Linked DNA regions of Homo sapiens: region 1 is linked to region 2. The links come from fine-mapping of genetic effects on gene expression. A gene starts in region 2. The other region holds a variant in brackets. All regions are shown on one strand. Distances are from middle to middle. Region 1 overlaps FOXJ2 (forkhead box J2). Region 2 holds the start of FOXJ2 (forkhead box J2).

Region 1 (5,376 bases), 23 kb after region 2:
GCAGCATAATATTTAATTGCTGTGGAATGTAATTTACTCTAGTTTATTTCCTGAGACCTCACTGAAATGGTGACCTGCAACCAAAATTAACTCCAGCTGATAAGGGCGATAGCCTCACAAGGCCTTCTTCGTGGTGTTATCTGGGGCTGAGCACTGTCCTTGTAAATTGAGGGAACAGCTTCCCATCCACTCTCCTTTTACTCTCTTTCTTTCTTTCTAACAGCACACCATATGGTCCCTCGGCCATCAGTGCCACCTCCTGGTGCCAATGAGGAGATCCCTGATGACTTCGACTGGGACTTGATCACTTAGTGCATCACAGAGTGTGGACATCAGCCCAGGGCCGCGTGGTGAAATCTGGCAGTGGGGAAAGAGCAACCCCAGCCCGTCCCTTCCCCCCGTCTGTATATAGACATATATCCTCTTTTTGTTCTTTCTCTGTCAGAGAAGCCACTGCAAGATGCTGCCGAAGATAACCCTCTCTTTCCTGCCTCATTCTTCTCTCTTCCTTCCTGTTTTTTCCTAGTTCTTTTATTATTATTCTTATATTATTATTATTATTATTGGTTATATACTGTCCATAGTCTCCTGTCCCTACATCATGGATCATGTCCACCTTTTGCTAATTTAAAATCATCAGGCTGGAAGATGAAGCCATGATAGCTACAGAGAAAGGTTTTAGACTCCAGTTTACCTTTCTCTTGGAGAAACTCAATGCTAATCCCACCTTTTGGCCCTAAATTGTTTTTTGTTCCCATCAGTTTCAGGCCAGGACTGGAGAGGCCACATTACCAAGTAGAAAGGGTCTGAAACATTACTTGGCAGCCAAGAATTTGGAGGTTTTAAAATGGTGCTAATTCTGTCCTCTGAGGTCTTCCTTGTCCCTTTATACCTTCAATCCTTACTTCTGCCAGTCTGTATTTCCTATCAAGGGTGAAAGTGATGATGGTGGTGCAGGAGGGTGACAATAAAATCCTAGTGGAATTGGAGACCATTGGAAGGGATGGAATATAAGTCAGTGTGAAACTGAGTATACACTGCCATGTTACATCAGTGTCCATTGGCTTGTTTTGAGCCTGTTCTCTAAGAAGATAGGATTGGTTTTAGCCCAAACTCTGCTTCTATGGTAGGGCATGAGGACAACTATTCAGCATGGTTTTAGCTTCTTGGAGATGATTCCAACTTAACTATTTTGGCTTTTTAAACATAATTTTCTCTGAAAATTAATTGTGGCTCTTATTTGCATTTACGAATGATCTTCCCATCCCTTTTTCCCATTCAGCAAATATTAGTTTGTCCTCCTTTAATTGTTTGCCCAAATCTTCCACCCATCTTTTTTCTTCCCTCATTTTCTGGGATTCTCAAGAAAGAAAAAGTAACCCATTATCACTCTGAGTTTCGTCGTGCCCTGAGACATGATGGGAATCTCATTCCCACCTCTCATAGCAGAGCCAAACCTTTAGTGTTGGTGGTAGGAGGATGGGGAGAGGAAAAAAGAGCTGGCAAAGAAATGGATAGGGAATATTTTAGTTCTTTAAATATATAGGCAGATGCTTCTCTTGGAATCCAGATCATCTGGCTGAAGCTTTTGCAAGTAGGCTTTGAGGGGTGAAGGAGATTGGTGGAGGAGAGTAAATAATCTAGAGGCAAGAGTTCAGTGAGGGCCAAGGGGGACCCCCAGAAAAAGGTATGGAGCTAACTCATCTCTTTTACAAGGGGTGGCCATGACTTACTGTTGCAAAGTACTCAGTGTATATTTAATGTTGATTGTTGAATTTTAGTTACGAGAGGGAAGAACAATTTTACTTCTGTCCTTATTTCACTTGCTGAAAAGCTGTGGGACAAAATGTATGGAATAGACAAGGCCACTTTCTTTGTGATTTCTGCTTTTCATGCATATTATTTTATTTACCCATAATTTCCAAGAGGTTTGGCGTTCCGCTCTCCTGCTTTTTTCTTTCATCCACCCCTTTCCTTTTTTTGGAAGGGGGTTATATATGAGAGTTCATTGAAGAAGTCCAGTGAGGCTGAAGTAAAGGGGCAAGATAGGGCAGTTAACTAAAGAGCACTTTATTTCTTTGAAGCCTTTCTAAGAAAGAAATGGGGGTGCGAGTGGCTTGAATCTCCCATGATGTTGGAGGGCACTTAGTGGGGTTGAAGTATGACATAATATTTCCCATTGGGGAAAGGAGAATTTCTCTTAGAGGGTGGCAAAATGCCTTTGCCCAGTGTCCCTATTTTAGGCATCTTTTCCTTCCTTATTCCTTCCAGTCAGGGTGTGTCCTATACAAAACTTCCCATCAGTTCTCCTCAATATTCCCCATTTGTAAATGATCACTTCTCTTTTCTAAACCCTTTTCCTGTTCAGATCCATACAGGATTTGCAAGGGTAGGATCATACATGCAAATGCCCCTTGTTCATCTGTGTCTTCTGCAAACTAGTCTCATGAAGAATTCTGGCGTGCAGCCAGGGTAGCTGAAGTTTGGGTCTGGGACTGGAGATTGGCCATTAGGCCTCCTGAGATTCCAGCTCCCTTCCACCAAGCCCAGTCTTGCTACGTGGCACAGGGCAAACCTGACTCCCTTTGGGCCTCAGTTTCCCCTCCCCTTCATGAAATGAAAAGAATACTACTTTTTCTTGTTGGTCTAGCATTGCTGGACACAAAGTGTAGTCATTATTGTTGTATTGGGTGATGTGTGCAAAACTGCAGAAGCTCACTGCCTATAAGAGGAAATAAGAGAGAAAGTGGAGGAGAGGGACAAAAGGAGTAATTATTTGGTATAGATCCACCCATCCCAACCTTTCTCTCCTCAGTCCCTGCTCCTCATGTTTCTGGTTTGGTGAGTCCTTTGTGCCACCACCCATAATGCTTTGCATTGCTGCATCCTGGGAAGGGGGTATATGGTCTCACAAGTTGTTGTCATTGTTTTTTTGCATGCTTTCTTAAT[A/T]AAAAAAAAAAAAGAATGTTTACAGTTTTATCTTACTGGTAGTGGTCTCAAGTTTCTTTTGGCCAGGGAAGGAAAAGAGAAACGTGAAAGAATTTAGTCTCAGTTCGTCTTTATTCCTCTTCCACCTTCCACCACTGGGTTGAATTAGTTGACCCTGACACGTTTTGTGACCTTGGTGGGAAAGAAGAATCAAAGGCACGTCCTTAACGTGCCTCTTTTCAAATGCTATCAAGTATGATGACATATTGCGGGAGAGTCAGTCACCCCTTGTAGGTTGGTATATGGAGTAGGCCCACCTTGCTTGCATTTTAGGATAGTTTAAAGATTTAAGATATTATACTTTGGGGCTGGGCGTGGTGGCTCATGCCTATAATCCCAGCAGTTTGGGAGGCCGAGGCAGGCAGATCACCTGAGGTCAGGAGTTCGAGCTCAGCCTGACCAACATGGTAAAACCCCGTCTCTACTAAAAACACAAAATTAGCCGGGCGTGGTGGTGCATGCCTGTTATCCCAGCTACTCTGGAGGCTGAGGCAGGAGAATCGTTTGAACCTGGAAGGCGGAGGTTATAGTAAGCCAAGACTGCACTGTTGCACTCCAGCCTGGGTGACAAGAACGAAACTCTCTCTCAAAAAGAAAAGATATTGGTTGGGCGCGGTGGGTCACACCTGTAATCCCAGCACTTTGGGAGGCCGAGGTGGGCAGATCACAAGGTCAGGAGTTCGAGACCAGCCTGGCCAACATGGTGAAACCTCATCTCTACTATAAATACAAAAATTAGCCGGGTGTGGTGGCAGGCGCCTGTAATCCCAGCTACTTGAGAGGCTGAGGCAGAAGAATTGCTTGAACCCGAGAGGTGGAGGTTGCAGTGAGCTGAGATCGTGCCAAGTGTGCCACTGTGCTCTAGCCTGGGCTACAGAGTGATACTTCATCTCAAAAAAAAAAAGAAAAGATATTATACTTTGGACAGGAGCTGTGTTCCCATCTGGGACTTCCTGGAGAAGATACAGTACAAAATAGTTACAGGTACTCACCAGGTTTTCATCAGAAATGAGGGAGCTCTAATTGTAGGAATTTCTTCAGAATACATTTCCAAAGCAAATGGAAAAGAAAAGGAGTCCAGAAATGCTGATTACTCGTTGTACATTAAATCTTTATAACTGCGTCAAGATTATTCACCTTGATATCCTATACACTAACCCCAGGAGTTTAGGTCTTATTCCCAGGGTCTTATGGGATGTGCTGGGGTTTCTGGAAGCCTGGCTAATTGCTATTATAGCAAGTCTATAGTCACTCACTAGGAGACTTATTTGCTGCATATTTAGAGATGTGATATATTCTGAATGTGAAACAAAAGGATTCATAAATCTCTGAGCCTCGCAAGGACCCATGAGAAAAAAAGCATTTATTCATATCAAATATATAAGCAAATTAATATATAAGCTGGAAAGGTAGCACTTCAAATCTTATGTCAGACATTCTTCACAACTGAAAGAATTCCTAGTGATTTGTAATTTTTCTGCATATACTTTATAAAAAATCTGTAGTCCAGACCCTCACCTCAGCCATTGAACAGATAGTGTCTTGCAGGTCTAAAACACATGTCATTTTCTGTTTTTAGACTACATCATTGTATTTGGTTTAGATGAGGCCACGTTGTGATACAAACAAGCCAGAAATTTCAGACGTTTGACACAAACATTTATATATACAGAAAAATGAGAAGGTGGTAGGGAGTTAGGTAATTTTGTTTTAAATGAAAAAGGGACAGAAGGAAAGCTATATAAATGGTTGGAGTGTATAGACAAAGTAGAAGAAAAATATGTGGTCATGAATGAATTAAAATATGGTTATTAATGAATGTTGGGATGCTGGATAAACAAATTAAAAATATGGGGTGCTTGGATAAACATCTTCATCTTTCAAAACAAGAAGTCGTTTTATCATGCCTCCAGAAAAGAGCAGCATAAGCACATGATTTAGAAACATCATGATAATTATCAAAGGAAACATCTAAAATTGTGCAAGGATTATCTCTGGGAAATGAGAGTGGGAGGAGGGAACTTTTGGGCACAGTGAGGTAGGAGACCTCATATTTCATTATATACCTTATTAAATTATTTTAAAACTATGTGCATGTATTACTTTGGCAAAGAAAAGGATTTAAAAAACCCAGAAGATATATTTGGTAATTTTGGCATGTAAGTTGCCTGTCGTCATGTTTTAAAATGTGATGGCAAGCCTGGTAGGGTACTCAGTTGCAGAGAGTAGAAGAATTGCTGCTCCATCCTCCACCCTCTTTCTCCTTCCACTTGAAATACTTTCTTAGAAAGTATTCATTTGGAGCAAGAGGAAGGGAGTAACTAGAATCTTACGAAATTAGAGGTTGTTTGAGGCACAAAGTCTGATGTGGAAGATTTGGAGGCTGGG
Region 2 (5,376 bases):
ATTACATAAGCAAATCTACACAAACACTAATTATAGATACATTAAAAAATGAAGTAAATTAAAATAATCCATAAACTCACATCTTTGGTGTGTATCCATCTTCTATGTGTCTATTGGTATGCACACAAATATATGCATGAACATATATATATTTTAAAAAGCAACTATATGATTGCATTATACAAATTTTAAAATATTATTTTCTCACTCAAATAAGTCAGATATATAAAACAATGGTTCTTTAAAATAATGTATGCCTACTGCAAAATATCTAAATGATAAAGAACATTATAAAAATAAAACAACTCCACTCACTCTACCTTTCAGAGATAAATACAATTATTCTTGCAAATGCTAAATAGTACTCTGTTGTACAGATGTGCCATAATATATTTAAAATTACCCTATTTTGGATATTTAGGTCTTTTCTAATTTTCCAGTTACAAAAAATACTGCAGCAAATGTCTTGTAAAAACCAAATAATTTCTTGAGCTTTTTATTTTTCCAAATTGCCAGGAAGATTCTAATCCTTCCCTCATGTTTCCATTTTTAGTACAACTGCCTGTCACTCAAGCCCTCCAATTTCCATACACAGGAAATGTCAAAAACGGTTGAAACATAACAAAACATCTAATACATAGCAAGAAAGATTTGCCGCCAAATTATCTGCGTGTGGGAGAATTATTTAATGCCTCAAAGAGAGGAAAAATACATCTTTAAACCTGAATATAGGAAGTGTGAGCAGGAAGAACAGGCTTGTTTTGGTTTACTGCCTTTAATTTTGAGGATGACTTTAAATTCTGATCGCTCCGGACAATGGTATAGAAGTCAAGAGCTGGGCATCGGAGTCATTTGGATTTAAGTCCTGACTCTGCTACTTACTAATTAAGCGAACTCACACATAGTATCTGTAAGTCACAATTTTCTCATCTGTAAAAGAAGTATAATAATAGTGTCTTAGGGAATCGCTAGAATCATCAATGTGACAACACATGCAGAATGCTCAGTGCAATGCCTGGCATATTGTAAATATAATTATTCATATAATATATACATACAACTTAAGTATGCAGTCTTTTGGGGGCAATTCAAATATTTTGCAAGCAATATTTTTGTATTCGTATTATCTTTTTTTTTTTTTTTTTTTGAGACGGTGTCTCACTGTCTCCCAGGCTGGAGTGCAGCGGCACGATCTGGGCTTACTGCAACCTCCGTCTCCCAGTTTCAAGTGATTCTCCTGCCTCAGCCTCCCAGGTAGCTGGGATTACAGGCACGCACTACCACGCCTGGCTAATTCTTTTTTTTTTTTTTTTTTTTTAGACGGAACCTGGCTCTGTCGCCCAGGCTGGAGTGGAGTGGCGCGGTCTCGGCTCACTGCAACCACCGCTTTCCGGGTTCAAGCGATTCTCCTGCCTTAGCCGGCACTACAGGCGTCCGCCACCGCGCCGGGCTAATTTTTGTATTTTTAGTAGAGACAGGGGTTTCACCACGTTGGCCAGGCTGGTCTCCAATTCCTGACTTCAAGTGATCCCCCCGCCTCGGCCTCCCAAAGCTTTGGGATTACGGGCGTGAGCCACTGCGCCTGGCCTCCTATTATCTTATGTGCTATAAAGTAGAGAGTAGGCCGGGCCGTGTTTCCTGCCTGTAATCCCAGCACTTTGGAGGCATAAAAAGGGAGAATAGTTTAAACCCAGGAATTAAAGACCAGCCTCGGCAGCATACTGAGACCCTGCCTCTATTTAAAAAGAAGAAAAAGATAAAGAAAGAAAGGAAAGAAAGTAGGGTAGTTTGATAAAAGTTTAAAAAGCCTGAGTATGGGCCGGGCGCGGTGGCTCACACCTGTAATCCCAGCACTTTGGGAGGCCGAGGAAGGTGGATCACGAGGTCAGGAGTTCGAGACCAGCCTGGCCAACTTGGTGAAACCCCATCTCTACTAAAAATACAAAAATTAGCCGGGCGTGGTGGCGCGCGCCTGTAATCCCAGCTGCTCCGGAGGCTGAGGCATCCCAGCTGCTGGGGAGGCTGAGACAGAAGAATCGCTTGAACCCGGGAGGCGTAGGTTGCAGTGGGCCCAGATCGTGCCATTGCACTCCAGCCTGGGCAATAAGTGAAACAACACCTCAAAAAAAAAAAAAAAAAAAAAAAAAAAGCCAGAGTATGAAATATATGAGAATTTGCAGCAGAATAATATGACTTCAGGATGTGACAGCTGTAAAGGGTAAGCAGGCCAAGTATCAAGGTCCCTTCTTCGCTGAGCAAGATTGCGGAGAACAAGGGCCATGCACAAGTTTAGGAAGCTGAAACAAGGAACAGGACCCAGATCTTCTGATGTTTATTTCACCGTTACACGCTCATTTATCATGTATCCACTCATTCAAGGAGCATTTACTGAATTCCAGGATGATATAAGGGTAACATATAAACTTCACCCCAATCTTCACCTCAATGCTCATGATCCTTTATAAATTATCTCGAGGGAAAGAGAAGCCCATCAAAGACAGTCCTGAGAAAGCTGGGGCTGTTCATCTGTATACGGAGTTTAACAGAATGAAACGCCGGAGTTGGGGTGTCAGCTGGAATTGACGGTATACGGTGCGCACTAGGGACTCTCCCGACGGGGAGCAGTGAGTTGTCATCCCGGGTAGACGGCGAACTCCCGGAGCCACGCGGCCGCAGGTGGGCGAGGGCGGCGAGATCCCTCGCCGGCGTGAGAGCGGCCGTGGCTCTCCAGGCGGAGCGCACACCGGGTAGCGAGGCTCGCGGCTCGGCGCTGCCCGCGGCTCGGCGTCTCCCGGCTCCTCCTTAACCCGCGCCGGGAGGCGGTGGCGGCAGCGGCCGGCGGGCGGGGGAGGGGGAGGGGCGCGGAGCGCGGCGCGGAGGCCGGGGAGGAGCCGGGGCCTGCAGCGGAGCCGAGCCGAGCCCGAGCCCGCGCCGAGCCCTGACACTGTCTGCCCGCCTTCTGGCTCCCCGGGAGCCCAGACTGGTCGGAGCCCGAGCGGTGGCAGCGCGGGGAGCCCCACGCGCCGAAGGGAGCGGACCCGACAGGACGGCCCTAGAGGAGGTGCTGCCGCCACAGTAGCAGGGACCGGAGTCTCGAGCCGCGGCCTCCCGGACCGTGCTGCCCAGGCCAGCTCAGGGACAGCCGGGAGTACGAAAGCCCCACCCTCTGGGGCACCCCGGGAGCGGAGGCGGGAGCGGGGACGCGAGCAACCTCTCCCCCTGTTGGAGAGAAAAGACCCTTACCACTCGGGTGAGGGAAAGAAGAGACCCCTGGAGGGGACGCCTCTCTCCTGCCTAGAGGCGAGGAAGACCCCTGTACTGGCCGGGGAGGAGACCCCCAGAAGTGGAAAGAAGGGAGCTTTCCGTAGGGAAGCAGAGTGAGACCACCCTAGCGCGCCCCCGCCCCTCCAAACACACACTCTCAACAGTTCAGGACTTTGGAGGCAAAGAGAGACGGGGCTGTGCCTGTGGAGTAGGCACCCTCGGCCCACCACTATTCACAGGAGACAGGAGTCCTTACGTTCAGAAGCCACTCCAGGGAAAGAAGAGGAATCGGCTTTCAGCCTTCTGGAGAGGGGAAGACCTCCCCCTCAACTTCCTCGTGCCTAGACAGTGGAACGGGGTGGAGCCCCTCCGCTCCTATCTCCAGCAGACAGAAAGAGCCCTCCACCTCAGAAAGATCCAGTTTGGGGGGGAGGGGAACTCCCCCAAGGGGGAGGAGACAACTCCTGGTTGGGAGAGGCTCCTCCCCTCCTCCCCCGGGTAACAAGCAGGGTGTGGGGGGTGTGCCACCTTCCCCAAGTAGGACCTCCTTCTCCTCCCCCTCCCCCTCCTCCAACCTTGACTCCTCATCCTCAGGGGACCCAGTTCCCCTCACCAACTTGGGAGGCTCAGCCTCGTCCAGGAAGAGCCACTGAGGATGAGAGCCGTCACCTGCCTCTGAAGAGGGGAATCCCTCCAACCCCAAACTCCAGTACCAGGTGGTTCCCTCCCTTTGCCGGAGGAACCTTGGAGACAGGTTAGTGCTTTCTTTCATCTTCTCTCTGTCATTGTCTGGCACTAGTGGGTGTAGGGGGTTGAGCTGGTGGATCGTGGGTTTCACTGCCGGGGAAGACAGAGTGATGACTCAGAAAATCCAATGGGAAATGTGATCCAAGGGAGCTCCTGGATTTGAACCCACATCTTGCTGCAGAAGCTCTGAGAAATGGGTTTCTTAGTGTTTGGGGACTAAAGGGATGGGATTCATTTTAGGTCCCTTAGGGAAGTGGATGTTTTCATGCTGAGGAAAAGGGTTATCGGAAAACAGCTGCATTTTGAGAACATGCATACTGTGTAGCAGTGATTTACACAACCCAACCAGTGGTAAGATTCCCATACCACCCTTCACCCTTGGGCCTTTTCCCCTGGAGAGTGGGCTGTCATGAAAATCACGGTGGCATCTGGGGTCCTGGCCTTGCCCAGGGCATGCCGAGGTCAGCTTAGTGTTCACCAGAGGTGTTCCCTCCAGCTTACTGCAATTATAGCTCCCTTGACAAGAAAAGCAATCTGTTCCTGCTCATCCTATCTCAGATACCAAGAGGCCTCCTCTCCTGACATTTCCATTCCTAGCTGGATGTATGCCTCTGCCCATAAAATCCAAAGGGAAAATGGGAATCCCACATGTTCTGAGGCGAGAAGAAAGTGTGCAGGGGAATGCCAACTCCCGGGTTAAAGTGCTTCCTTGATGCTGGCCCTGAACCACTGCCCCAGTCCCCTTCTCGACTCCTGTTTTTTGCTCACAATTCTTCAGGAAAAATTAGATCCTGGATACGAAGGGAGGAGGGCTGCTGCTCCGCTTCTGTCCAGACTTCCAGTTAAACAAGTTGACCACTGGAGAGATTTCACTTCTGAGGAGTATATAAAGTTTCCTTCCAGAAAAGTACCTAATAGTCTCATCCTCTCCCTTCCTGTTTCTTGTTCAGTTCTGAGTCCCTCGAACCTTGTGTTAAAGTTTTCCTTCATAAGCTAGGGAATTATCAAAGTCCAGAATCTTCAGAAAAGGCAGGAAAAGGGTACCAGGAAATCCTCCCCTGAAGCCTAGGCTGTTTTTAGGAGAGGTCACTAGCTGGTTGTCTGCTTTCCTGCCTCACCATTAGCAGATACCTTATCTTCTGTCTCACAGCAAGGACAAGTTGTGAAGGAGGCTTCATCTGACTTGGCCTTTCATATTTCCTCCTCTCTCTGGGGCATGGGTGAGGTCTACCTAAATTCCTGAGTACAGTCATTTGTCCTGGAAGCTACTGGTGGTATATGAGATAGGGCACAGGTTTGTGTGGCTGTGCTATAGGACAACATGCATATACTTCTTAATTCATGTGAATGTGGCTCTCTGTTTCA

What was found.
Region 1: its variant is fine-mapped to the expression of FOXJ2 in whole blood (TOPMed, PIP above 0.99).

The regions. Positions count from the first base shown.
Region 1 is chr12:8,052,539-8,057,914 of GRCh38, forward strand. FOXJ2 (forkhead box J2) reads left to right here. Exons shown (of 11, transcript NM_018416.3): 11 at 224-2,979. The coding sequence ends at 312. It overlaps C3AR1 (complement C3a receptor 1), which reads right to left. Exons shown (of 2, transcript NM_004054.4): 2 at 4,306-5,376. Among named protein-coding and RNA genes, the nearest start is that of C3AR1, 11 kb to the right of the region's middle. The variant A/T (reference allele first, on the strand shown) is at 2,950.
Region 2 is chr12:8,029,816-8,035,191 of GRCh38, forward strand. It overlaps FOXJ2 (forkhead box J2), which reads left to right and starts at 2,901. Exons shown (of 11, transcript NM_018416.3): 1 at 2,901-4,018. RefSeq lists silencers at 2,586-2,735, 2,756-2,995.